Homo sapiens: one gene and its partners. The protein of the gene in region 5 purifies or fractionates together with the protein of the main gene of each other region. This does not show direct contact. Each region holds a gene or a part of one and is shown on either strand. Other genes may lie near its edges.

Region 1 (3,500 bases), on a different chromosome or scaffold from region 5:
ACTAGAATACAGGAAACCACCACAACCACAATTATAGGGTAGACAGGCCTCAAAATTGTAGCATTCTATAAATAGTCTAGTAAACTAAATCTTGACAAACAAAACTCTACCTGTCACCAACACCCAAGTCCTACAACAGTTCAAGGCAGCCATCTATTGTTCTGAAGCAATAACCATACTGTAGAGGATAAGATGGTTACCCATTAAAGGGGATACTGGTAATAAAGTATATTTTTAAAATTGGAAACAAGAATGACTAAAACCAGACCTGATAATGTAAAGGCTTGAATTATCAAAAAGGGAAGAAAACTATGAATTAAATTAGTACTTTTTTTTTTTTTTGAGACGGAATCTCGCTCTGTCACCCAGGCTGGAGTGCAGTGGCGCGATCTCAGCTCACTGCAAGCTCCGCCTCCCGGCTTCACACCATTCTCCTGCCTCAGCCTCCGGAGTAGCTGGAACTACAGGCGCCCGCCACCAGGCCCAGCTAATTTTTTGTATTTTTAGTAGAGACGGGGTTTCACTGTGTTAGCCAAGATGGTCTCGATCTCCTGACCTCGTGATCCGCCCGCCTCGGCCTCCCAAAGTGCTGGGATTACAGGCGTGAGCCACTGCGCCTGGCAAATTAGTACCATTTTCTCTGCAGCAATAACTGAGCGACATAACAGTAAAGATACACTAAGAATACACTTACTGGTGCTCATAATTAAACATTGTGCTTAATCATGAGGGCTGATGGGTAGGTGAAAGGAGCTAGGATTTACTGTGAAGTAATAACTGCATGCTCACTGTAAATGTTACTAAAAAGATAAGGTAGAGACCATTTCCAGTTGATCCTAGATAGTGGGCCATTTAAGTGTACAACAAAAGCTTATTGGAACTCAACTTCTGGGGTTGACATGACATTTTTGTTATCTTGATTATGGTGGTGGTTTCACAAGTGTAAACATGTCAAGATTATACAATTAAAATATGTGTAGTTTATTGTATATAAATTATGCTCCAAAAGGGCTGTTAGGAAATTTACTGTAACTAATGTAGACATCTTGTTCAACAAGAATCAACAGTTCCCTTGAACACACTCTCATCTTTAGTGAAAGTTTAGAGACTAGCACGTGAAAATGAAACATTCAGCCCGATAGACTCAATTTCTTTGAAACCTGCAAAACAGAAAGTTTGACTGACAAATGGCTCCTCCTTCTGGAAATCTTCATTACTACACAAACAAGCTGAGGACCAACATCTAAAAACAGCTCCAGGCCAGGTGCAGTGGCTCACGCCTGTAATCCCAGCACTTTGGGAAGCCAAGGCAGGTGGATCATTTTGAGGACAGGAGTTTGAGACCAGCCTGGCCAACATAGTGAAACCCCATCTCTATTAAAAATACAAAAATTAACTGGGCGTGGTGGCACACGCCTGTAATCCCAGCTACTTGGGAGACTGAGGCACGAGAATCGCTTGAACCTGGGAGGTGGAGGTTGCAGTAAGCCAAGGTTGCACCACTGCACTGCAGCCTGGCTGACAGAGTGAGACTGTCTCAAAAAAATAAAAATAAAAATAGCCAGGTGCGGTGGCTCACGCCCATAATCCCAGCACTTTGGGAGGCCAAGGCGGGCAGATCATCTAAGGTCAGGAGTTTGAGACCAGCCTGGCCAACATGGTGAAACCCCGTCTCTACTAATAATACAAAAATTATCTGGGCATGATGGCACATGCCTGTAACCCCAGTTACTCGGGAGGCTGAGGCAGGAGAATCACTTGAACCTAGGTGGTGGAGGTTGCAGTGAGCCGAGATCACATCATTGCACTCCAGCCTGGGCAACAAGAGTGAAACTCAGTCTCCAATAAAAATAAAAAATAAATAAATAAATAAAAACAGCTCCAGATCTACAACTGGCTTGTTCAATTTGGTTTTAAAGTCAGTAAAATCCATCCCTTCCAAGTGCTCAATGTATTTCAACAAGTGTATGCAGTAAGCACCACCACAATCAAGTCACAGAGCAATTCTTGGCTGGGTGTGGTGGCTCACGCTTATAATCCCAGCACTTTGGGAGGCCGAGGCGGGCAGATCACTTGAGCTCAGGAGTTTGAGATCAGCCTGCACAACACAGCAAAACTCCGTCCCTACAAATAATACAAAAATTAGCCAAGCGTGGTGGTGTGCGCCTGTAGTCCCAGCTACTCGGGAGGGTGAGGCAGGAGGATAGCCTGGGCCTGGGAGGTGGAGGGTGCAGTGAGCTGAGATCGTGCCAGTGACCTCCAGTGACAGAGTGAGACTCTGTCTCAAAAAAACAATTTCCTTGCTTTACTTATTTATAAATATGAAATGTTTCATAACTTACATGTCAGCCTTGCACAGGGCCCATGCTAATCTTCTCTGTATGGTTCCAATTTTAGTACCTGTGCTGCCAAAGCAAACACAAGTCCTAGAACATTCCTATCATTCCCAAAAGTTCCCTTGTGCCCCTCTGAAGTGAAGTACCTTCTTCTCTACCTCCTCATTTTTATTCAATAGTATTACCTTTTCCAGAAAGACAAAGAAGTGGAATCACATAACATGCAGCCTTTTGTATCTGGCTTCTTTCACAACTAGCTTTTTAAAGAAGTATCTTTGAATGGACAGTCAGGTCAGGTAGGTGCTGACTCCAAAATGAGTTCCAAAAGACCAGTTCTCTAAGTCCACCGTAGAGGACACAGGGACAGCACTTACGGGAGTGGGATGGTGATAACCACATCATTCAGTTCTAAATTATCTTCTTGTAGCTCATATTCTATGTTGACATCACAGCCATTTCCACTCTCCGAGGGCCAGCAATTAACTGAGGAGAAAGCAAAGCAGTCATACTAGAATATTAGAAAAAGATGGCTGGGTGCAGTGGCTCATGCCTGTAACCCCAGCGCTTTAGAGGACCAAGGTGGTAGGATCGAGGTGGGAGGATTGGTTGAGGCCATGAGTTCAAGACCAGCCTAGGCAACAAAGTGAGACTCCACCTATACCAAAAAAAAAAAAAAAAAAAGCCAGGCGTGGTGGCACTTCCCTGTTCTCCTAGCTACTCAGGAGGCTGAGGTGGGAGATCAGCTGAACCCAGGAGTTCAAGGTTGTAATGAGCCATGATCACACCACTGCACTCCAGCCTGGGTGACAGAGGGAGTTTGTGTCTTTTAAAAAAAGTTAGCTGGATGTGGTGGCATGTGCCTATAGTCCTAGTCCCAGCTACTAAAGAGGCTGAGGCAGGAGGATGGCTTGAGTCCAGGAGTTTGATGCTGCAGTGAGCTATGATTGCCCCACTGCACTCCAGCCTGGGCAACAGAAGAAGACCTTGTCTCTAAAACAATAACAACAACAAAACTACAATGGTTTCAAAATGAAAGCTATTAAAAATGAAAACTAATGATAAAAATATACAAAATGCAGCACCAGGTCCATTTCAAAAGAAAGTCATTTTGTCAGAAAGAACTTTGCTATGGTAATAAAAATAAAAGTGTACCAGCAAGGGCTA
Region 2 (3,500 bases), on a different chromosome or scaffold from region 5:
CATTTGAGAAGCTTCTCAAACATTAATGTGCATACCAGTCACCTAGGCATCTTGTTAAGTATGCTTGTTGTGATTTTTCAGTAGGCCTGGGTTGGAGTTTGATATTGGGCATTTCTAACAAGCTCCTCAATGATGCTCATTGTTTGAGAAACATATTTTGAGTAGCAGCGCCCTGGAACACTCTCATACATTAGAAATAAACTGTTTCTTTGAGAACTAAGATACCAAGAAAGTATTTCAGGGGCTTCCAGGACAAAACGAGTAAAAACAGGACGCCTGTACTGTTTTAATCAAGGCAGCTCTGCTTTTATTTTCTTTCTCCACTGGGTTTCCAAATAAGATTTCAATTAAAAGCTGTCAATGTAGAAGAAGGGGACTTTGAACTCTTGAGTACAGATAATATAACAGAGATTAGTTTGCTGCTGTCTGAAAATGTTGGGTTGAAAAGGCCCCAAGAGTACAGAAGAGAACAGGATCCCAAAGTTCTTTAAGTAGCCAACTAAATTATCAGATAATACCTTTCAGAAGTCAAGATTTTGGATTTAGAATTTTTAAAAACTTGAGGGAGTCCCTCCCTTTTCAGCCTCTTAGTAACTGTGGGGCCTTGAACAAATCAACTTCCTTTCTCTGGGCCCCAGTTGTATGATGTGGGGAGTTGACCCGGGTAAACTACGGAGCCTTTCCAGTTGTACTCTTCCAAAAATTGAAAAGACAAAGCCATCAGAATTATCATTATTCTAGTGAAGCTTCTATCTTTTCAAAGCTGTTATCATAATTAGAAGATGACGTTTTCCATTTATTTTATATAAGACATAAACATTTGTAAAAATGGTTTTTCGTTTTTCCTGGTTGTCTTCGAAAAGTAAAGTAATGCTGAAGCAGGTGGATCCCTTGAGGCCAGGAGTTTGAGACCAGCCTGGGCAACATGGTGAAACCTCGTCTCTACTAAAAATACAAAAATTAGCCAGGTGCAGTGGCACCCACCTGTGATCCCAGCTACTCAGGAGGCTGAAGTGGGAGCATCCCTTGAGCACAGGAGGCGGAGGTTGCAGTGAGCCAAGATTGCACCACTGCACTCCAGTCTGGGTGACAGAATGAGACCCTGTCTCAAAAAAAAAGTAAAGTAATGTCTTGCATTTATCAAATGTGAGATGATTCTTTTGTGCGTTTTGAAACTGGCATATTTAGAAATTGACATAATTTGAAGTTTATGGTAACTGGTTAGAAGTTTATGGTAACTGGTTAGTGCTTTCTCAAATACAAAATGTGTTCCTGTTTTATGAAAGAAACTATTCAGAATGATTGTAATCAGAGATTAGTTCTCAGTAATGAAAAGCAGATGGCCTCAAGTATAACATTTTTGTGTCTGTAGGTACATGAATGTATGCGGGAAGTTTTTACCGAGAATATTACACTCAGTATATTTTCCAGGTTTAATATATTTTTGGTTGTTTTGAAACTCCCCGGGTCTCTGAAATGGCAAATCAGATTCTTCTTGCATAAGTCTTTTGCTCATAAATTTATAGAGATTTGTGATCAGTTTTCTTACATTTTTAGTGTTTCCCAGGAGGAGATTAGCAACATAGTATGTACTAATAGGCTTTAGAATCCATTTCTTAGTCTTTTACCGTCTGCAAAATGGAGCTCATGATAGCTACCTTGTAGAGTTGTGGCCTTTTAGTGTATTAATTCACATAGGCAGTAACTGGCATGTGGGAAGGAATCAGTTTATAGTAGCTATTGTAAAAATAATACATCTGTATCATTAAAAAGTTTAAAGGAAAAATATCACCTATAATTCCACTATCTAGAGTTGACCACTAATAAAATTTCGTAACATTTCCTTCTAATCATGTTTTCTCCTTTTTTCATCTAATAAAGTAAAACATAATATAAAATACTTAAAACTATATAAAGTGACATGACTCTGCTCAAGTTAAACATTAATTTTTTATGAATAAATGCACCTCCTTTTTTCCTGCAGCTAGATTTTCCATTTAGCAATACATTGTGAACCTCTTTTCTTGTTAATGCAAATCTGCCTCATTCTTTTTAAATAGGGTATTCCACCTTTGACTATATCTCATTTCATTTAATTATTCCGATATTCATGAACATTTATTTTATGTCTTGTTTTTAATTATTATACATAACACGGTATTAAACAGCCTTGAACAAATTGTTTTGTGTGCTTACCTGACTTTTTTTTGTAGGATCAATTCCTAGAAAGCGGAATTACTGGATTAGAGAGTACAATGTATTTAAACTTTTGAGAAAAACTCTACATTGTCTCCATAAAACATTACCACTTTGTACTTTCATCAAGAAAGTATGAGTGCCTATTTTAGTTATACCTTAACTTTTGTTGAATATTACCAAATTTTTTTGTGGGCAGCTTTATTAGAGAGGTTGAGCTCTTGGATTTTTAATTTCTTGTTAAGACATTGCCAGATGTCCACTGCAGGAGGCAGAATCACCCCCATTTGAAAAGCACTGATTTACATAAATACAGAAGATGTACTTATTGAATGTATAGTTCTAATCTTTTCTTGGTCCAGATAATTAACATAATGTAGACAGAATCAGGATTCTGGTGTTTTATACTTCACCTTTAAGAGGAAAAAATAGACATTTAAGAGTTACTTTGTTTGAGATATTTGTGTCTTATCAGCTGTTCATATGAAAATGAGCAAGGTTTTAGATGATTGCAATGGTATTTGCTGGAAAGAGGGAAGAAGGGGAAATGAAATTTTTTCAAAGAATTCTGTTCAGCTCCCATGCCCCCAGTATTCTAAGAGACTAGTTTTCAATACTTTTTTCTATTAACTTTTCAAAAGTTGGTTATAGCTTTGACTCTGATAAATGTAAATTTTCATGTTGTCTCTACTATTTGATTATACATTAGGTGACCTTGGGCAAAATCTGACTTACCAGGTTATTGAGAGGATTAAATGAAATTTTAATACCAACTAAAGTAGTACCTGGCACATACTAAATAATATACAGTGACAATGAAAATTTACATTCCCTTCACTGAAATCCTTAGGAATATGCCACATTTACTGTATATTCCATTCACCCCTCATAGGTCTGGGATAGCACTGTGTAATCAAACAGTACTATTTGTGCAGTGAAACCTATAAATGTTTACCTTATAATGGGTAAATAATGACTATAGATTTATTCAGTTAGGTTTTGCTGCTGAAGGAGTTAAAAATCTTTCAGTTTTGGAGATTTTGGAATTGTTGATATGAGAAGTTGGTCTTGTCCTAAGATTATTAATACTCCCTAGGTATTAAATTGATTGCTTGTTTAAGCAACTTGAGTTGCAATATAGTCAAAATCTCAAGTTGATGTCGCTTAAAATTTACATGTTTTCACTTTTGAGGAATCTGAATGAAGAATCTTTTGTACTGTTTTTGTAACTTTTCTATAAAGTCTACATTTATTTTTTTTAAAAAAAGTTTTAAATGTAAAAGCCCGTATATGAAGTGTGATGA
Region 3 (3,500 bases), on a different chromosome or scaffold from region 5:
ATAATAATTTAATTAGGTTGCTGATTCAGCATTGATATAAAAATCAATTATATGTCCATCTACTAAATCAGGTAGAAAATGAAATTTTAATAGATATTATTTAGAATAGCATAAAAATTAAGATAACTGGGAATATATCCAGCAAAAGACAGGATATTCCAGAGAAAACTATAAAACTTCATTGAAAGACATTGAAGACCTAAATAAATGAAGAGATATACCCCGTTCATATGCTAGAGGAGTCAATATTGTAGAAATGTCATTTCTCTCCAAATTGATCTATGGGTACAATGCAGTGAGATCAATATTATAACATTTTTATGTGGAATTTAATAAAATAAACATTCTAAAATATTTATAGAACTCAAATGAGCTAAGAATAGCCAAGAGACTGTGTAAAAAGAGAAAAACATAGAACTTATTATAAAACTATAATAAGAGAAGCAGAGTATTAGTATAAATATGAGAAAATGGAACAACAATAGAAGAAAGAGACTAGAAACATTTACATGTATATAGACATGATGTATGGCAGAGGTTTATTGAAGATCAATGGGGGAAAATGGAGATTTCAATAAATGGCGCTTGGACAACTGGCTTTCTATTTGGAAAGAACATAAAATTGGAGCTTTACCTCCATCATTCACAAAACTCACTTATAAGTGGGGGTATTTCCTTTTTAAAGAAAAATGGAACTATGTTGCAAATCTTTTCACCTATTTTTCCCATGTCAATAGATAGAAAATAATACATATATAAAATAGATATGACTTTTAATAAATGTACCAAAATTTATTCAGTCTGATTAGTTCATTGCAAATATTTTACTATTATACAGTGAGCATAGTTGTATAAGAGATCCTAATTTTCACACATTCTATACTCCTACAGCTTCTTTCATACACTGAATGTGCTGCTTTTAATAAGTGAACATTTTGAGCTATTACACGGCAGCTACACTGCCTTTATTGTATTGCATTTGCTTTTATTTTTATAAAGAACTGTGCAAAAACGAAACAAATGAATTTGCTGCTACTAGTGATAAGCGGCACAGTATCGTATACTTTTAAATAGGCACAAAGATAAAAAGCACTTGGCATTGTGAGTGTGGCTAATCTTGAGCGCACTCACATACTCACTGAACTCAATCCATTCAGTGGTACTCAGTCATCAGAGAAAAGAACAATGGTAAAGAACATGAATAAAATACTCGGAATACATATTATTAAAGACTTGGTATAAAGGAGATGTATAATTAGACATTTTATCTTTCTCTTTTAAATTCCTCTGGAACAGAATCTATTTTTTTTTTTTTAGCATTCACATATCCACTTTCACCAGTGTTTTTCAGATTTCCATTATGTAAAAAAGGACTGCCTACATTATATATTCATCAGGTTATTCCAGTAGGATAAATTCCTAGAAATACAGTTAATAGGGCAGAAGGTATGCATATATTTTAGACACTTTATGTATACTATGCCAAATTGCTGAGACAGGATGTTCCAATCTATATTCCCATCAGAAACACACACCACCACTAAGCTTTTAATCTATAACATGCTTTTTAGTCATGACAATTCAATCTTACTATTTTAATTTGCATTTCTTTGCTGAAATCACTCTGTCTCCTTACCTACAAAATGCAGATAAAGATATCTACCTATAAGGATTACATAATATTATGTAAAATTCTTAGGACAGGTGCCTCACATGTAGTAAATAATCAGCAAATATAAGCTATTTTTTCATATGCTTATTTCTTTTATGAATTTTCTATTCTTACCCCTTGCTCACTTTTTATATTAGTCCTTTGCCCATTTCTCATTGCTTTATCCTAAGAGCTTGTTAAAAGGAAAGTGAATTCCTGGTCTATCACATGCTAATATTTTTCCCAATATGTCATTTAAAAGTTTGTTTAGAATGTCTTTTTAAATAAAAAGACAAATGCATCAATATGATTTTTGCCTTAAATGTCATGCTTAGAGAGGCCTTGTCCTCCTTAATTTTATACTGATAATCACTTAGATTTTACCCTAATACTTTTTTTTAACTTCAAACTTCTATTTTAAGTTCCGGGATACATACACAGGAGGCGCAGCCTTGTTACATAGGTATAAACGTGTGCCATTTACCCTACTACTTTAATGATTTTATTATTTTACATTTAGTTCTTTAATCAAACTAGAATTTTTTTTATAGGGTGAAGGGAGCTATGTTTTCCAAATGTTTTGCAATGGACATGTATTATTTTCATAGTTAGAAAACATCTCAATACTCTGAACATTAATATTAGAATCAAACTTATCACTCTATTAATATTGGAATCAAACTTTTCACGACATTCCAACTCCATCTGCTAATTTTCAGACTGGCCTAGACAACTGTGAACAGACTAATTTGCATACAAGCTGAATGTAATTAGTCCACAGTTAACAATTACTTTCCTATTGGCATTCTCATTGATATAAATTACCAAGGTTTTCTCTATACTAGGGTCAGTAAACTTTTTCTGTAAGTGACCAGATAATAAACATTTTAGGCTTTGGGCCATACAATCTGTCACAACTACTCAGCTCTCCCCTGTAGCACAAAGGCAGCCACAGACAATATATTTGTGAATGAATATGGCTGTGCTCCAATAAAACTTTATTTATGGATACTGAAACTTGAACTTTACGTATTTTTCTGTTCACAAAAATTATTCTTTTGATTTTCTTTGCATCATTTAAAATTAGAAGATTCTTGGCTTCTGGGCTATATAAAAACAGGTGGCAGACCAGTTTGCCAATGCCTGCTTTATTTCAATACTTTTGGGTGTGTTGTCTATAGTAGCACCACCCAACAGAACCTTCTGCACTGACGGACAGGCTGTATACCTGTGCTTTCCAGTATGATGGCTACTAGCTACATATGGCTGTTGAGCACTTGAAATGTGGTGAGTGTGACTTAGGAACTAAGTTTTGAATTTTATTTAATTCTAATTAATTTAAATTTAACTAGCCACATGTGGCTAATAGCTACCGTATGGGATAGTGCATACCTATAGATTGGGCCTAAATAAATAATATGTAGATATAGATACAGATGTATGTGTGTGGGTATTTTTCTCCTGAGGATCTAATTTGACATATTTAGTACAGTCACAAAAATCGTGGATATTTACTCAACTAAAAGTTCCACAATTTTTTTCCAGTGACAAATGGGAATAGCTAATTTTCATTTCTAAAGCCCTCTTGCCCTAAGTTCTCTGAATGCCAATTAAGCAATGAGCAGAACATGTAATCAGAGCCCCAGAAGCATTTATGCCACTCCTGCAGGTGGCAGCTTCTCCTCATTGCTGTTATTCCTTAAAGGCACACCACATCCTCTTTCTCCTGACACTGCCCTCTCTATCTCCACAGGGTAAAAATAAAAATAACTGAATTAGTGGGAGAGGACTATAGCTATTGTCACTTTTCTTAGGTACCAAATGCTTTTCTAATAAAAAAGCACACTTA
Region 4 (3,500 bases), on a different chromosome or scaffold from region 5:
TCTGAACTGGCAAGCAAATTTTCACCCAGTTAATTGGGTCGAGGAAAAATAAAATAAAATAATTCCCATGATTACACAAATGTTCTTTTATTTATATTAGTCACTGTAACAATCCTATTTATGGATTAATTTCTTTGTACCCCAAACAACTGTTTTCTTATGAAATTTTTAAAGATTTTTGTAACAAAATATAACCTTAAATTCCTAATTTTGAACTGAAAACATCTACTCCATAGCTAGAGTAACTATAAAATTGGGCCATGGCCAGGCACGGTGGCTCACGCCTGTAATCCCAGCACTTTGGGAGACCAAGGCGGGCGGATCACATGAGGTCGGGAGTTCGAGGTCAGCCTGGCCAACGTGGTGAAATTCCATCTCCATTAAAAATACAAAAATCAGCTGGGCATGGTGGCACACGCCTGAGGTCCCAGCTACTCAGGAGGCTGAGGCAGGAGAACTGCTTGAACCTGGGGGGCGGAGGTTGTAGTGAGCCAAGATTGCCCCACTAGACTCCAGTCTGGGCGACAGAGCCAGACCCTGTCTCAAAAAAAAAAAAAAGAAAAAGAAAGGAAAAAAAAATTGGGCCACGTTTGAGAGACAAAGCTAGAGAGTGTAGTCGTACTCCCCAAAACTTTTATATATTTACTCTGTCTTAATAAACTCAAAGGTCCTCAATGTCTTTATGGGAGATAACTGAAGGATTAAAATTAATTCAAATGTAATTAATGTTTTCACAAGACTCCTTATAATTTCCTTACAAATCCTATATATCCTACAAAATTAGGGATGGTAGTAAATTTTTTTTTTTTTTTTTGAGATAGAGTTTCGCACTTGTTGCCCAGGCTGGCGTGCAGTGGCGCGATCTCGGCTCACTGCAACCTCCACCTCCCAGTTTCTCCTGCCTCAGCCTCCCAAGTAGCTGGAGTTACAGGTGCCCACCACCATGCCCAGCTAATTTTTTTTTTTTTTTGTATTTTTAGTAGAGACAGGGTTTCACCATGTTGGCCAGACTTGGTCTCGAACTCCCAACCTCAGGTGATCCACCTGCCTCAACCTCCCAAAGTGCTGGGATTACAGGTATGAGCCACCGCACTCTAAGATAAATTTCTAAAGCACAATTGCTTGGCCCACATTCAGTCTGAGGAATGGCAATCCAACATTCTCAATCCAAGAGAGTCTGACCAGCCATTGGGCACAAGTTCAAATCCTCCAGGAGTACTGGATGTTTTAGATTAGGACATCAGAAAGGACAAAGAAATGATCTGTTCTCAGAAGGAATCAAGATACCCCTGTAGGACACCCCAACATCCCCACCCACAAAAGCTGGTGATTATACGAAGCCCTGAGACAGTCCAGATTTCATTTCTATTGCCCAGGCCAGTAGACTCCTGATCCAGTCTATCATTACCACTCTCCAGGATCAGAAGTTAATCATGTTGTTAAACTTTCCATGATAATGTTCTGGGTTTTTTGTTGTTGTTGTTGTTTTTTGAGGTGGAGTCTCGCTCTGTCACCCAAGGCGGGAGAGGGTCTCAAACTCCTGACCCTCAGGTGATCTGCCCACCTCAGCTTCCCCCAAAGTGCTGTGATTACAGGCGTGAGCCACCATGCCAGGCCCATGATAATGTTTAAAAGCAATGAATAGGCTGGGCACGGTGGCTCACGCCTGTAATCCCAGCACTTTGAGAGGCCCAGGTGGGCAGACCACCTGAGGTCAGGAGTTCGAGACCAGCCTGACCAATATGGTGAAACCCGTCTCTACTAAAAAGATACAAAAATTACCCAGGCGTGGTGGTGAGCACCTGTAATCCCAGCTACTTGGGAGGCTGAGACAGGAGAATTGCTTGAACCTGGGAGGCAGAGGCTGCAGTGAGCCGAGATCGCGCCACTGCACTCCAGCCTGGGCATCAGAGCGAGACTCCACCTCAAAAAAAAAAAAAAAAAAAAAGCAATGAATAATACATGTTTGCCCACTAAAGAACAAGTTCCACGAGGGCAGGGACCCTGTCTACTTGCTCAATACAGAAGTCCCAAGGCCCAGCAACAGACTCGGGATGAGACTGGTTGCCAAGAAATCTTTGCTTAACTCACTGCTACCAAATGACAACTTGTCTCTGTGTTACCAGTACCCAGCACGCATGGTGCCCGGGACTGCATGCACACATCTCAAGCAGTTTCTGAAGACACAGAGGAGAAACACTGCCTTAGTCATTCATGTTTGGTTACAAGATCTACTGAAATACCTGCCTCCAAACAGCAGCAGACTGTCTCTTCAGAGACTTCTGCGGTGCCAAGCCCTGGGGTTTCAAGAAGAAAGCAAAAAATGATTTCCTTTCCTTAACCAAAACACTACATTTTACTTGGGGCGCAGCAGTCTTTACTGCTGCACTCCCATCTCCTCCACCCTTCTTTTCTGGGCAGTTCATTAGCATACGACTCAATGAGGCTAACTTCTTAATCCAGTACATATTAAAAGATCTTGTCATCTTGTCAATAAGGCACTTCCCTCTCTACCTATTTCATATTGCAACCACCAAAGTCCCTACTCCTCTGCACTGTTTTTCAAAAGCACCTGCCACCATTGAACTTGTTCGTCTGTCTCCCATAGCAGAAACAAGGACAAAGACTTCTGTTTTATTCTGCGGGAGGCCCCAGTACCTAGAACTGTGCCCAGTACATAGAAGATGCTCATGAATAAGTAAACAGATGCAAATCACTGAAAGCTACTTTTCGGTAACTGAGTAAACAAGTACTATTTTAATTATTATACTTAAAACCTTTGCACATAAAAGTGCACAGTCATTCTTTCTACCACAAATTAAACAGAAATTATCTCATCTTGTTTTTGAACAGGCTTTTCCAGATAATGCACAGCGCATTTTTAAAAGTCCCAAGGACATGAAATGAACATACATTTCGTTTTTAACAGTTAACAGGGGATACTTGTAAGAAACTTAAGGTTACACAGGAAGTGGTCAAAATCAAAAAGTAAAGATCACAAAGTGATCTTTCGTTGTTTTCATACTATAAAAACACAATGCCTCTGTTACTAAATGCAAAATGTAAAGCTCTGGCAAACAAAGTAAAGCAACCCTGTTCTCTCTTAAGAGGGCAGGGTGGAAAACCAATGACTGCCAGATGAAAACTAATTTATATCACCACAAACTATTTCTTAAAAATTTCATTAGCAGCCAAATACAAAATTATTTACTATCTACCTACTGATAAGGGTTTTCCATTACTATATGCTCAAAGACAAACCTTACAACTATAGTTTCGGGAGGCATAAATTTGCTTACCTCAGGAGGTCCCACAAAAATTCAGCTGAGGCCAGGTAACAGCAGTTTCCTGCAGAGATCAGCTACTTCCTATCACCATAGTGGTCGAAGAATCAAACGAAGTAATATCAGATTTCTACTCTGGAAGCCTAAAACACTTTTCCCTTTAAGCAAAAAAGCAAGCATTCCTTAGCTAGCAATCTCAGGCCAAACTCCCAACAA
Region 5 (2,954 bases):
TGGGTGACATGCCTCTTCCAAGTTGGACAGCTGCCCGCCATGACTCCAACAAATGTGGAGATGACAAGTTGGCCATCTAGCTCAAGCCAAGTGGACGCAGAAGCAAGCAACCGGGAAACTGACAGGACTCACACTAACTGGGCTTCTGGCAAGGACCCCGCAGTCTGCCTGGGGTTTGCACAGGGCAGTGATCCCAGCAGGGCAGTGAGGAGTGTCACGTATACCACGTGGGCACACCTCAAACAACATTCTAGAAAGAACGCCCAGGCTACAGTGCAGTGGCATGATCACGGCTCACTGCAGCTCCCACCTCCTGTGCTCAAGAGATCCTCCCACCTCAGCCTCCTGAGTAGCTGGGACCACAGGCGCACGCCACGATGCCCAGCTAATTTTTAAATTTTTTGTCTTGCTGTGTCACCCAGGCTGGTCTTGAACTTCTAGCCTGAAGTGATCCTCCTGCCTCAGCCTCTCAAATTGCTGGGATTACAGGCATGAGACTACAGGCCTAGAAGGATCTCCATGAACTCCAGACAGGGTCTCTGCCTCCCTCATCCTAGTGAGGTCCTCCCAACACGGAATGAGCAGGAGCCGGATAGGTGTGGCCTAAGTCCTCTCATCCCTGTGTGGTGGGAGCAGCTGTGGTCTTTTGGGGGCTCTCCCCTCCTCTCTCCCCATGTCTGGACACACTCCCCGGCGGGGCAGGAGCTGGCCCCACCCCGCACTCTGTGCACATCTTCCTCCCACAGCGCTCGCACAGGGCCGGGTGCCCAGAGGCCCTCGGTGAGAGCCACCCTCTGTGTGATGTCCCTTCTGGTGCACCCTGGCCCCACACTCACCGTCGCCCTCCTTCTCGCCCTCACTCTCCTGGTCGCCTTCATAGCCAGAGCAGCAGTCCAGGCTCCAGTCGAGGAAGCTGCCCAGCAGCGTCTCCTCCTGGCTGGACAGCTCCGCAGTGGGGGTGGTAACGAAGCTGCCTCTGTCTTCCTGGAGGCTGTTCTCCCGCTTCCTGCAAGGTGGAGAGAGCCCAGGAGACCCAGTCATGGACGGCGGCGCTGGGAGGCCAGGCCCTCCACACCTGCCTCTAACACCCGCGTGCCCCAGCCTGTCACCACGTGCTCCCAAAGGTTCTGCTACGAAGAAGATGCCGGTGAAGCTAGAACAGGTATAAGCCCTTCAGGCAGGGCCAACCTGGAGGACAGCTCAGGCAAACTCAGGCCCCAGGTCTGGGTGTGAAGCCCAGCCCACCCGGCTCAGCTGTGGGGCGTGGGCCAACCATCTGGTCCCCTGGAAACCTCTAGGATGATGCCACCTTCCAGTGTTTTTTTTTTTTTTTTTTTTTTTTTGAGGTGTTCTTGCTCTGTCGCCCAGGCTAGAGTGCAGTGGTGTGATCTTGGCTCACTGCAACCTCCACCTCCCGGGTTCAAGTGAGTCTCCTGCCTCAGGCTCCTGAGTAGCTGGGACTACAGGTGCCCGCCATCACACCCAGCTAATTTTTATATTTTTAGTAGAAACGGGGTTTCACCATGATGGGCAGGTTGGTCTCGAACTCCTAACTTCAGGTGATCCGCCCACCTCGGCCTCCCAAAGTGCTGGGATTACAGGCATGAGCAACCGCACCCGGCCCCTCTGGTGTTGATTAATAAGGTGCAGGCAGTGCTTAGCCCGGCGCCAGGCAGATTGCATGGAATGGCCTGGCCTTGGGCGGTGCTGACACCCACACCCAACTGGGGTCAAGTCTTGCTCAGGATGGGGCTAGAGGCCAGTGTGTGGGCGTGAGCCTGGGAAAAGCCGCCACACCAGCTGAGCCTTTCCACTTCCTGACCCCAGGGCCTGGTGGAGGGCGGGGGGTGGAGAGAGCTATCCCAGTGTCACCCGTGGGGGTCTGTCTCAGAAGACTGATGGGGCTGTGGGGGGCCTCTGAGAAGCGGGTTTAACACAGCGAGGCTGAGCACAGGGCCAGGGCCAGGCCCCCTCCTGGAGTAGCCGTGCGTATCTGCATGGACTTTCCTCGTGATGACCCTGGCCCCAGGGAGTCGGTGCGTGTGTGGAGTGACACAGGAGGGTCAGGTCTCCTGCCTTCCACACAATGGAAAGTGCTGTCACGCTTCTTGGGGAGGAAGCAGCAGCAGGGGCTTTGGCTGCTTCCCCAGGGCTCCCCAGGAGTTGAGGTCTCCTGCCAGGAGCCCACTCCCGACACAACGCTTCTGGAGGCAGCCCTGCCTGGTCCTATATTGACAGGAAAGACCCAGCCACCCAGTGCCTGCCCTTGGGAAGGTTACTGGTGCACATGGTGCTGAGGGGTCACGGCGCAGGGCCAGCAGCACAGGGAGGGCCCTGTTCATCGGGGCCTTGTGGAATCAGTAGGAGTTCTCCAGGCGGGTGAGGTAGAAAGAGGAAGTTAACTCCAGGAGGAACAGCCAAGGTGCTGAGATAGGAGAGGCGGGTAAACAGGTCCACACGGGTGGCGAGGGAAGTGCTGGGGATGTGACTCAGGTCACAGCTCGAGTGCCGGGAGTGACAGCAGCATCATGGAGCAGAGAAGTCCAGGACGCGCATGACAGGCACGGGCAGGGCTAGAGCCAGGCTAGGCTCCCGCGTGCTCGAAACCATCTTCCTCCACAGGGAGCCCAGTCAGAGCGAGAGGCAATAGCCTCTGAGGAAGGAGACCTGGGCTGGAGACAGTGGAGGTTACGCAGGGGCCCGAGGCATGACTGCAGGGCTCCGTCCCAGGGTCACTGTCCTGGGATCTGCTGCTCCCCTGACAAGCCTTGGGGGCCTCTCTGTGTGAGGAAGCGCTGAGGGAACTGGGCCGGCACGAGGATGCCAGCATTGTATGGCGCAGCCAGAACGCAGGGTAACTAACCGTTTGGTTCTCCGCCCCGAGGGAGAGCTGAGGAAGGCGTGGATCTCCCCTGTGCTGAGGAAAGTCGGGGGGTCGGGGCTGTCTTGTGTCA
Region 6 (3,500 bases), on a different chromosome or scaffold from region 5:
GGGAGAAAGCCCCCTAAAATCTAGCCATAAACTGGCCCCAAGACTGGCCATAAACAAAATCTCTGCAGCACTGCGACATGTCCATAATGGTCCTAACGCCCAAGCTGGAAGGTTGTGGGTTTACAGGAATGAGGGCAAGGAACACCTGGCCCGCCCAGGGCAGAAAACTGCTTAAAGGCATTCTTAAGCCACAAACAAAAGCATGAGTGATCTGTGTCTTAAGGACGTGTTCCTGCTGCAATTAATTCGGCCCATCCCTTCATTTCCCATAAGGGATACTTTTAGTTAATTTAGTATCTATAGAAACAATGCTAATGACTGGTTTGCTGTTAATAAATATGTGGGTAAATCTCTGTTCGGGGCTCTCAGCTCTGAAGGCTGTGAGACCCCTGATTTCCCACTTCACACCCCTATATTTGTGTGTGTGTGTCTTTAATTCCTCTAGCGCCTCTGGGTTAGGGTCTCCCCAACAGAGCTGGTCTCAGCAACTTTGAGTTTACCTTTCCTTTCTTTTATCTTCTAAAACAAAAGCCTAGATAACTGTTTTAGATCTTTATTCTTTTCTAATATAAGTAATTAAAGCTATAAATTTTCCCTTAAGGCTTTAATATATGAATTATTTGGAAGGGCTTATTTAATACTGCAAACTCTTCCCTCCCAAGATATGACACTGATTTCAAAATTACTTCCAGTGTGATCAGAGAACATATTTGTATTCCAACCCTTAGAAATTTATTTAGAGTTGTATTAATATTATAGCTCACCTTATTGTCTATCTTGGTGAATGTCATGCACACTTGAAAATAATGTGTATTTTGCCTTTTCTGGGTGCAGTGTTCTAGGTATCAAACAAGTCAAGGTCTTCATTGATCTAATTGTTTCTCCAATTGTTCAGAGCTTGTTCAAACTTCCAACTATGATTATAGATTTGTCTATTTCTCTCTTGAATTCAATTTCTGCTTTATATTTTGAACTCTATTATTAGGCACATACACAGTGATGACTGTTGTTTTCCTTCTAACAAATTGACCCTTTATCATTACAAAATGTCCCTGTTTAAATCTGAAAATACTATGTCTTTAAATCTACTTTATCTAATATTAATAGACACTGTCTCCTTAAGGTATTGTCTGCATAGCATATCTTTTTATATCCATTTATTTTCAACCAAGTATATCTCTTGTAGACAGGATTATCGTCGAGTCTTGCTTTTTAATTCATCCTAACAATCTCTGCCTTTTAGCTGGAATATTTACTTGATTTACATTTAATTACTGATATAAATGAATTCAGTTGTATCAATAACTGAATAATTGAATACCTACATTTTAGGTATTTGTTTTCTATTTGTTCTTTCTGGTTTTTGTTTTTTTCTTTTGAGTTTTCTTTTAGGTTAATGTTTTCTAGAATTCCATTTTAATATATCTTTGGCTTTTACAATAGTGTATTTTGTATTTTACTTACTTATTTCTAGAGATAGTTTCACTATGTTGCCCAGGCTGGTCTTGAACTACTGACCTCAAGTGACTCTCCCACCTCAGCCTCCCGAACAGCTGTGACTACAAGCACAGACCACTGCAACTGGCTTATTTAATGGTTGTTCTAGAATTTACAATATACATCCTTAACCTTTTAATTTTACTACTGCACATAAAATGTAAGAATCGTTAAGAATCATATAGATCTATTTACCCCACACCTCCTGGCCTTTGTGATTAAGTTGTCAAGTGTACTAAGCCTGCTTTAAACAGTATTCTGTTTTCTTAGCTTCTATATTTAACTACTTGGCATCCATTAATCACAGAGCCAACTGTATTAACTATATATTTTATTATTAATATTATTAGTAGTAACTAAATATTTTCTTATTTTCTGTATTCTTGAGGCTCTGACATTTGTGGAGAGACTGCCCCTCCGTCAGGTGGGGAGGAGTCAGCAAAGGGCTTGCTTGGTAGCATGCCTTTCTTATGCAGAGCAGCCAATCTGGAGCCCATAAACTCATACACCAAGCCAAAATTCTCCCTGCTGTAAGTCAAGGGCCAGGTATTAGACAAGCAGGGCAGTCTTTATGCCCCAAGGCCCGCCAAAAGCATTCAAACTAGCCAACTGCAAGCCGTTTACGCTGCTCTGCCTTGCTTTTCCTGCAGAAACTCCAACAAAAGCTCTGACCTACTTTTTCCCCTAGTTCCTTGTGACTCCTGACTAAAACTGGTGCTTCCCCATGTGGCCCTGCATGGCACATCAAGCCCCCTTCTCTCAGGCAATATAAGTAGTAAAAGTTTTCTTTCAAGGGCATTGGACTGTGTCATCACTCAGTCACCTCTATAGATTACAATCCCACAGGCACAAATGAGACAAATAGTTAAATATATTTTTAAAGAAACTAAGAAGGGCAAAAATAGTCTTTTACATTTACCTATATATTTTCCATGTCAGGTCATCACATCTCTTCAGCTTAAAGAACTTCCTTCACCTCTCTCTTTTTTTTTTTTGAGACAAGGTCTGGTTCTATCACCCAGGTTGGAGTGCAGCGGTGCAATCTTGGCTCACTGCAGCCTCCGCCTCCTGGGCTCAAACCATCCCCCTACCTCAGCCGCCCGAGAAGCTGGGACTACAGGGTGCACCACCACGCCCAGCTAATTTTTGTATTTTTTGTAGAGATGAGGTTTTGCCATGTTGCCCCAGCTGGTCTTGAATTTGTGAGTTCACGCAACGTGCCCACCGTGTTCCATTCCATGCACCGTATTTATGAGAATGCTGACCAAGTGTAGAACACTTAGCACAAAGTGACCTGGATGGGGTGGGGCGTGGTGGCTCACGCCTGTAATCCCAGCACTTTGGGAGGCCAAGGCGGGTGGATCACAAGGTCAGGAGATCAAGACCATTCTGGCCAACATGGTGAAACCCTGTCTCTACCAAAAATACAAAAATTAGCTGGGCATGGTGGTGTGTGCCTGTAATCCCAGCTACTCTGGAGGCTGAGACAGGAGAATTGCTTGAACCAGGGAGTCGGAGGTTGCAGTGAGCCAAGATCGTGCCACTGCACTCCAGCCTGGCGACAGAGTGAGACTCCATCCCCCAAAAAAAGAGAATATAGATTTTTTGTTTTAGCAGGCAGTCAGAATCTGAACTCAAAACTATAAGCTCTGTCTCCCCAGATGGTAAGCAACTGAAATCTGTTCAGATTTTTCCCCTATTAGGCTACCTGGAGTCCACCCTGTGTTTCAGTAGTTCAGGGACAAACCAGAGATTTGGGAAGAATTTATATAGACTTAGGGGATCTCCCTTTGTGCCTGCCGCCTCCTTTCTCTAACCCTCACCACTATCACCACCAGTTTCCATCTACTATGGTTGTCTACAACTCTCGCCTCCAGTTCTAAAGCCAATAAGACCATAAATTTTCTGCTAGAACCTTAGCTGCCTGGCTTGAAGCTGTCTTCAGCATGTACTTAGGTCAAAAAAAAAGGTGTAAAACAGAAAACATACCCTTTCTTATAAGT
Region 7 (3,500 bases), on a different chromosome or scaffold from region 5:
CTCCTGCCTCAGGGCCTGCCACCATGCCTGGCTAATTTTTTAATTTTTAACAGAGATGGCATTTCACCATGTTGGCTAGGCTGGTCTTGAACTCCTGACCATCCACCTCGGCCTCCTAAAGTGTTGGGATTACAGGCGTAAGCCACCAAACCAAGCTGAAATATTAATTAATCCTAAACTAGTTTAAGATGTTCCCAATTTCACCTCCACTCCATTAAAAAAAAAAAAAAAAAAAGGTGGGTTCTTACTGTCACCCAGGCTAGAATGCAGTGGCATGATCATAACCTTGAACTCCTGAGTTCAAGCCACTCTTCTGCCTCAGCCTCCCCAGTAGCTAGGACTCCTGGCCTCAAGTGATCCTCCCACCTCAGCCTCCCAAGTTGCTGGGAATATAGCATGCACAGAGGGTGTTATGTTAGCCATGGATCACAAACATTTGCTGTTAATCATCCATCTTTCTTGTGCTTCAGTGTTCATCATACTCATTATTTAGCTCAAAATGGTAGACCTGAATTTATACTTAGTATTGAGTTACAATTTAAGTTTCCTACAGAGATGCTTTTGGATATTTATAATTAAAAGCAATTCAATTTATCATAAATGAGATTGAAAACTGGTGAGAGCTTTAAGGCACTTAAATTGCTTTACAAAGATTGAGGGCAAATTTTTGTCCAGGGATGTTTTCCCCACCCATCTGCTGCTTAGGTTCACACAAAACATCTAATTGAAACACATTTTCAACGTTCCATACTTAGAGACAAAAAGCTAAAAATCTGATCCTATGTATTCAACCTCTTATGATCTGAACAATGGTTAACAATCTTCCTGAGAAATAGGTTCTAAGAGTAATGGAAAACACTTTAAAAAAAACAAAAAAACAAAAAACAAAACCAACAACCCAAATATGTGATATCAATTTGAGTGGTTGATAAAAGTCTTTACCGAGTAAAAACAGCATGGTCCTTCTGATCTAACACAATGATAATATCGCCTGGCTCCAGTCCTGGTTCTTGGTCTCCTTCACCATGGAATGTTATCTTCTGGCCATCTTTCATGCCTAAAAACAAAACATTAATTTTGTACTTTTATTAAATATCCAACTAAGGTCAGAATCATAAAATCTATACATAGATGTTTGTTTATGCATAAAAATCACAGAAATGACTAAGAAAGCCCACTTAAGTAGTTCAGTCCAATTTGCTCCTGAAGAAAGGTATCATAGTGGAGAACACAAACTCCAGAGGCAAAGAGACTAGCCTTCAAATCTCAGAGCTGCTATTCACTGGCTGGATTACCCTGGGGAAGTAAGCTGCATATCCTTTCCAAGTTTCAACTTTCCCACAGACACCTACACCTCATTAGCAATATTTAGAGTATTAACTCAACAGGTATATGCTGGTACTAAACCATGACTGGCTAACACTGGTTATAACCAAAAAATGTTAATTAAGTATTTCAGTTTCATTACTTATAACACATCAAATTACTTCTATTAAAAGTCTAACAGCAATGTAAATCAAGACCCTTCTATTGTAGTATTTATATATAAAACTAAAAAAATTTTAAATCTATAATCTTCTCTTGAGATAGGATCTTGCTCTGTTGCCTAGGCTGGAGTGCAGTGGCACAAACATGGCTCACTGCAGCCTCCATCTCCTGGGCTCAAGTGATCCTCCCACCTCAGCCTCCCGAGTAGCCAGGACCACAGACCAGCTAATTTTTGAATTTTTTTTTTTTTAATAGAGATGGGGGTTCTCATGTCGCTCAGGCTGGTCTTGAACTACTGGGCTCAAGGGATCCTGCCTCGGCATCCTATAGTGTTCGGATTACAGACCTGAGCCCCTGTGCCTGAAAATCCGTATTTTAAAGAACTATTCAGTATAGTCCCCTTAAAAAAAGGGTAATTATACTTTGAGAGGCCGAGTCAGGAGGATACCCTGAGGATAGCACCCTGGAGCACAGGAGTTCCAGACCTTGTCTCATTTAAATTAAACAAGCAAACAAAACAATCAGTGCTAGACACTCCCTTAGCCCATGTGGTCCGTAAAATACAAGGGGAGGAGTATTTTCTAACAGGGCAAAAAAACACGCCTTTTTTTTTTTTTTTAAACTGAGACTTCGTGCCCCTCACCTCTGACCCACATATTTTAGTTCAGTAAGGGTTTGGGCAACGTCTCTTAGAACATAACTCATGTAAGAAAACCTGTGTTTGTAGAGTATTACACCAAAGCAGTTATCTCCTGATTATTTCCCAAGATCACTCTGGTTACCTAACAGAGCAATCATGTTTCACCTTTACGTATGGAAAATATTAATCCTGTATAAACAGAGCCAACAGTACAATGAATTCCTACATATCCATCCAATTTGGCTTCAGCAGTTACTAACTCATGACTAATATTTCATGTATTACACCCCTACGCATGCCCCCCACATATACTTTCAAGCAAACTCCAACTATATCCATTAACCCACAAATACTTCAGTACGTACCTCTTAAATAAGGACTTAAAGCGCTATCAGTATCATACACTGACAAAATTAAACAATCTGTCTTTAATCGTGTATTGAGGCAAAATAACTTGTTATGCTAGGGAAGCAATTAAACTCAGCTAGGTTTTCCTGAATACAGAGTAAGAGTAGGCACAGCACAAATGCCTTCACTTGCTATATAGTTAGGGCATTAATTTCAAGTTCTCACTTACAGTCCATTGTTGATAGGTTCTTGGAAATTGCTTTAAATGAAATGACACATAACAAGACCAATTTTTTTCCCCTCAGCTGTGTTACAGTGACATGACATTATTTGAGGACCTGCATGACATTATTTGAGGTCATTCTGCTAGAAGTCCCAGTTTCCAAGAACCTATCAACAACGTTAAGACTTACTCTGTATGCTATTGGTATCAAGAACACCTCAAAGTATAAACCTTAGGCATGGGCCCACTAAGGGGTAAACACAGATTTATTAAGTTCAACAACTGGCCAAGGAAACTTATTTTTACCTTTCAATGTACTACATTCTTGGGTGGAACCCTGGGGGTCAGAGAGGCCAGTATCATGAGTCACATGATAGAATCCTATTGCAGCCACTTATGTTAATGTAGATTTGTATATTAATATGGAAATATGTTCAAATATTAACAGTTCCAGATTGGTATCATACCACAGTACAGTATAATAGTAGACCCATTTATAAACAGCAAAATCTGAAAAGAGATTACCATAATGTTGACTTAAGTTTCCTTCTGGGGTTATATACATTTCTTAAAATTTCTGCAGTGTATTGCTGTAATACATTTTAAAATGTTTTTGCAAGTTGACAAGAGTAAAATTTAAAAATTGACAAATCAATCAAATCCCGAGAATACAAAAAAAAGGTTATATAGTTATTTCTAAATCTGGAGCCCAATGGGTTAGGGAAGTGTCAAGTCTAAAAAAATGAAAGGTAGTCTATCAAATCAATTAACGGAGCATTTAAATATAATAGATGGGCAAGT

What was found.
Region 1: the proteins of CCNF (region 5) and ARCN1 purify together in Homo sapiens (affinity purification with mass spectrometry, with the first as the bait; 2 studies listed by BioGRID). This does not show direct contact.
Region 2: the proteins of CCNF (region 5) and ZNHIT6 purify together in Homo sapiens (affinity purification with mass spectrometry, with the first as the bait; 2 studies listed by BioGRID). This does not show direct contact.
Region 3: the proteins of CCNF (region 5) and AGK purify together in Homo sapiens (affinity purification with mass spectrometry, with the first as the bait; 2 studies listed by BioGRID). This does not show direct contact.
Region 4: the proteins of CCNF (region 5) and NAP1L4 purify together in Homo sapiens (affinity purification with mass spectrometry, with the first as the bait; 2 studies listed by BioGRID). This does not show direct contact.
Region 6: the proteins of CCNF (region 5) and EIF2S1 purify together in Homo sapiens (affinity purification with mass spectrometry, with the first as the bait; 2 studies listed by BioGRID). This does not show direct contact.
Region 7: the proteins of CCNF (region 5) and DNAJA1 purify together in Homo sapiens (affinity purification with mass spectrometry, with the first as the bait; 2 studies listed by BioGRID). This does not show direct contact.

Annotation. Positions count from the first base shown.
Region 1 is NC_000011.10:118,592,909-118,596,408, reverse strand, and holds part of ARCN1 (coatomer subunit delta), read right to left. Parts: intron 2,820-3,500; coding exon 2,711-2,819; intron 2,406-2,710; coding exon of another isoform or gene 2,343-2,405; intron 1-2,342. UniProt on the Homo sapiens protein: Component of the coatomer, a cytosolic protein complex that binds to dilysine motifs and reversibly associates with Golgi non-clathrin-coated vesicles, which further mediate biosynthetic protein transport from the ER, via the Golgi up to the trans Golgi network.
Region 2 is NC_000001.11:85,698,434-85,701,933, reverse strand, and holds part of ZNHIT6 (box C/D snoRNA protein 1), read left to right. Parts: intron 1-3,500. UniProt on the Homo sapiens protein: Required for box C/D snoRNAs accumulation involved in snoRNA processing, snoRNA transport to the nucleolus and ribosome biogenesis.
Region 3 is NC_000007.14:141,641,910-141,645,409, reverse strand, and holds part of AGK (acylglycerol kinase, mitochondrial isoform 1 precursor), read right to left. Parts: intron 1-3,500. UniProt on the Homo sapiens protein: Lipid kinase that can phosphorylate both monoacylglycerol and diacylglycerol to form lysophosphatidic acid (LPA) and phosphatidic acid (PA), respectively. Does not phosphorylate sphingosine. Phosphorylates ceramide.
Region 4 is NC_000011.10:2,985,830-2,989,329, forward strand, and holds part of NAP1L4 (nucleosome assembly protein 1-like 4), read right to left. Parts: intron 3,443-3,500; exon of another isoform or gene 3,300-3,442; intron 2,298-3,299; exon of another isoform or gene 2,248-2,297; intron 1-2,247. UniProt on the Homo sapiens protein: Acts as a histone chaperone in nucleosome assembly.
Region 5 is NC_000016.10:2,453,447-2,456,400, reverse strand, and holds part of CCNF (cyclin-F), read right to left. Parts: coding exon 2,864-2,954; intron 1,007-2,863; coding exon 837-1,006; intron 336-836; exon of another isoform or gene 1-335. UniProt on the Homo sapiens protein: Substrate recognition component of a SCF (SKP1-CUL1-F-box protein) E3 ubiquitin-protein ligase complex which mediates the ubiquitination and subsequent proteasomal degradation of target proteins.
Region 6 is NC_000014.9:67,366,828-67,370,327, reverse strand, and holds part of EIF2S1 (eukaryotic translation initiation factor 2 subunit 1), read right to left. Parts: intron 1-3,500. UniProt on the Homo sapiens protein: Member of the eIF2 complex that functions in the early steps of protein synthesis by forming a ternary complex with GTP and initiator tRNA. This complex binds to a 40S ribosomal subunit, followed by mRNA binding to form a 43S pre-initiation complex (43S PIC).
Region 7 is NC_000009.12:33,031,773-33,035,272, reverse strand, and holds part of DNAJA1 (dnaJ homolog subfamily A member 1), read right to left. Parts: intron 1,058-3,500; coding exon 943-1,057; intron 1-942.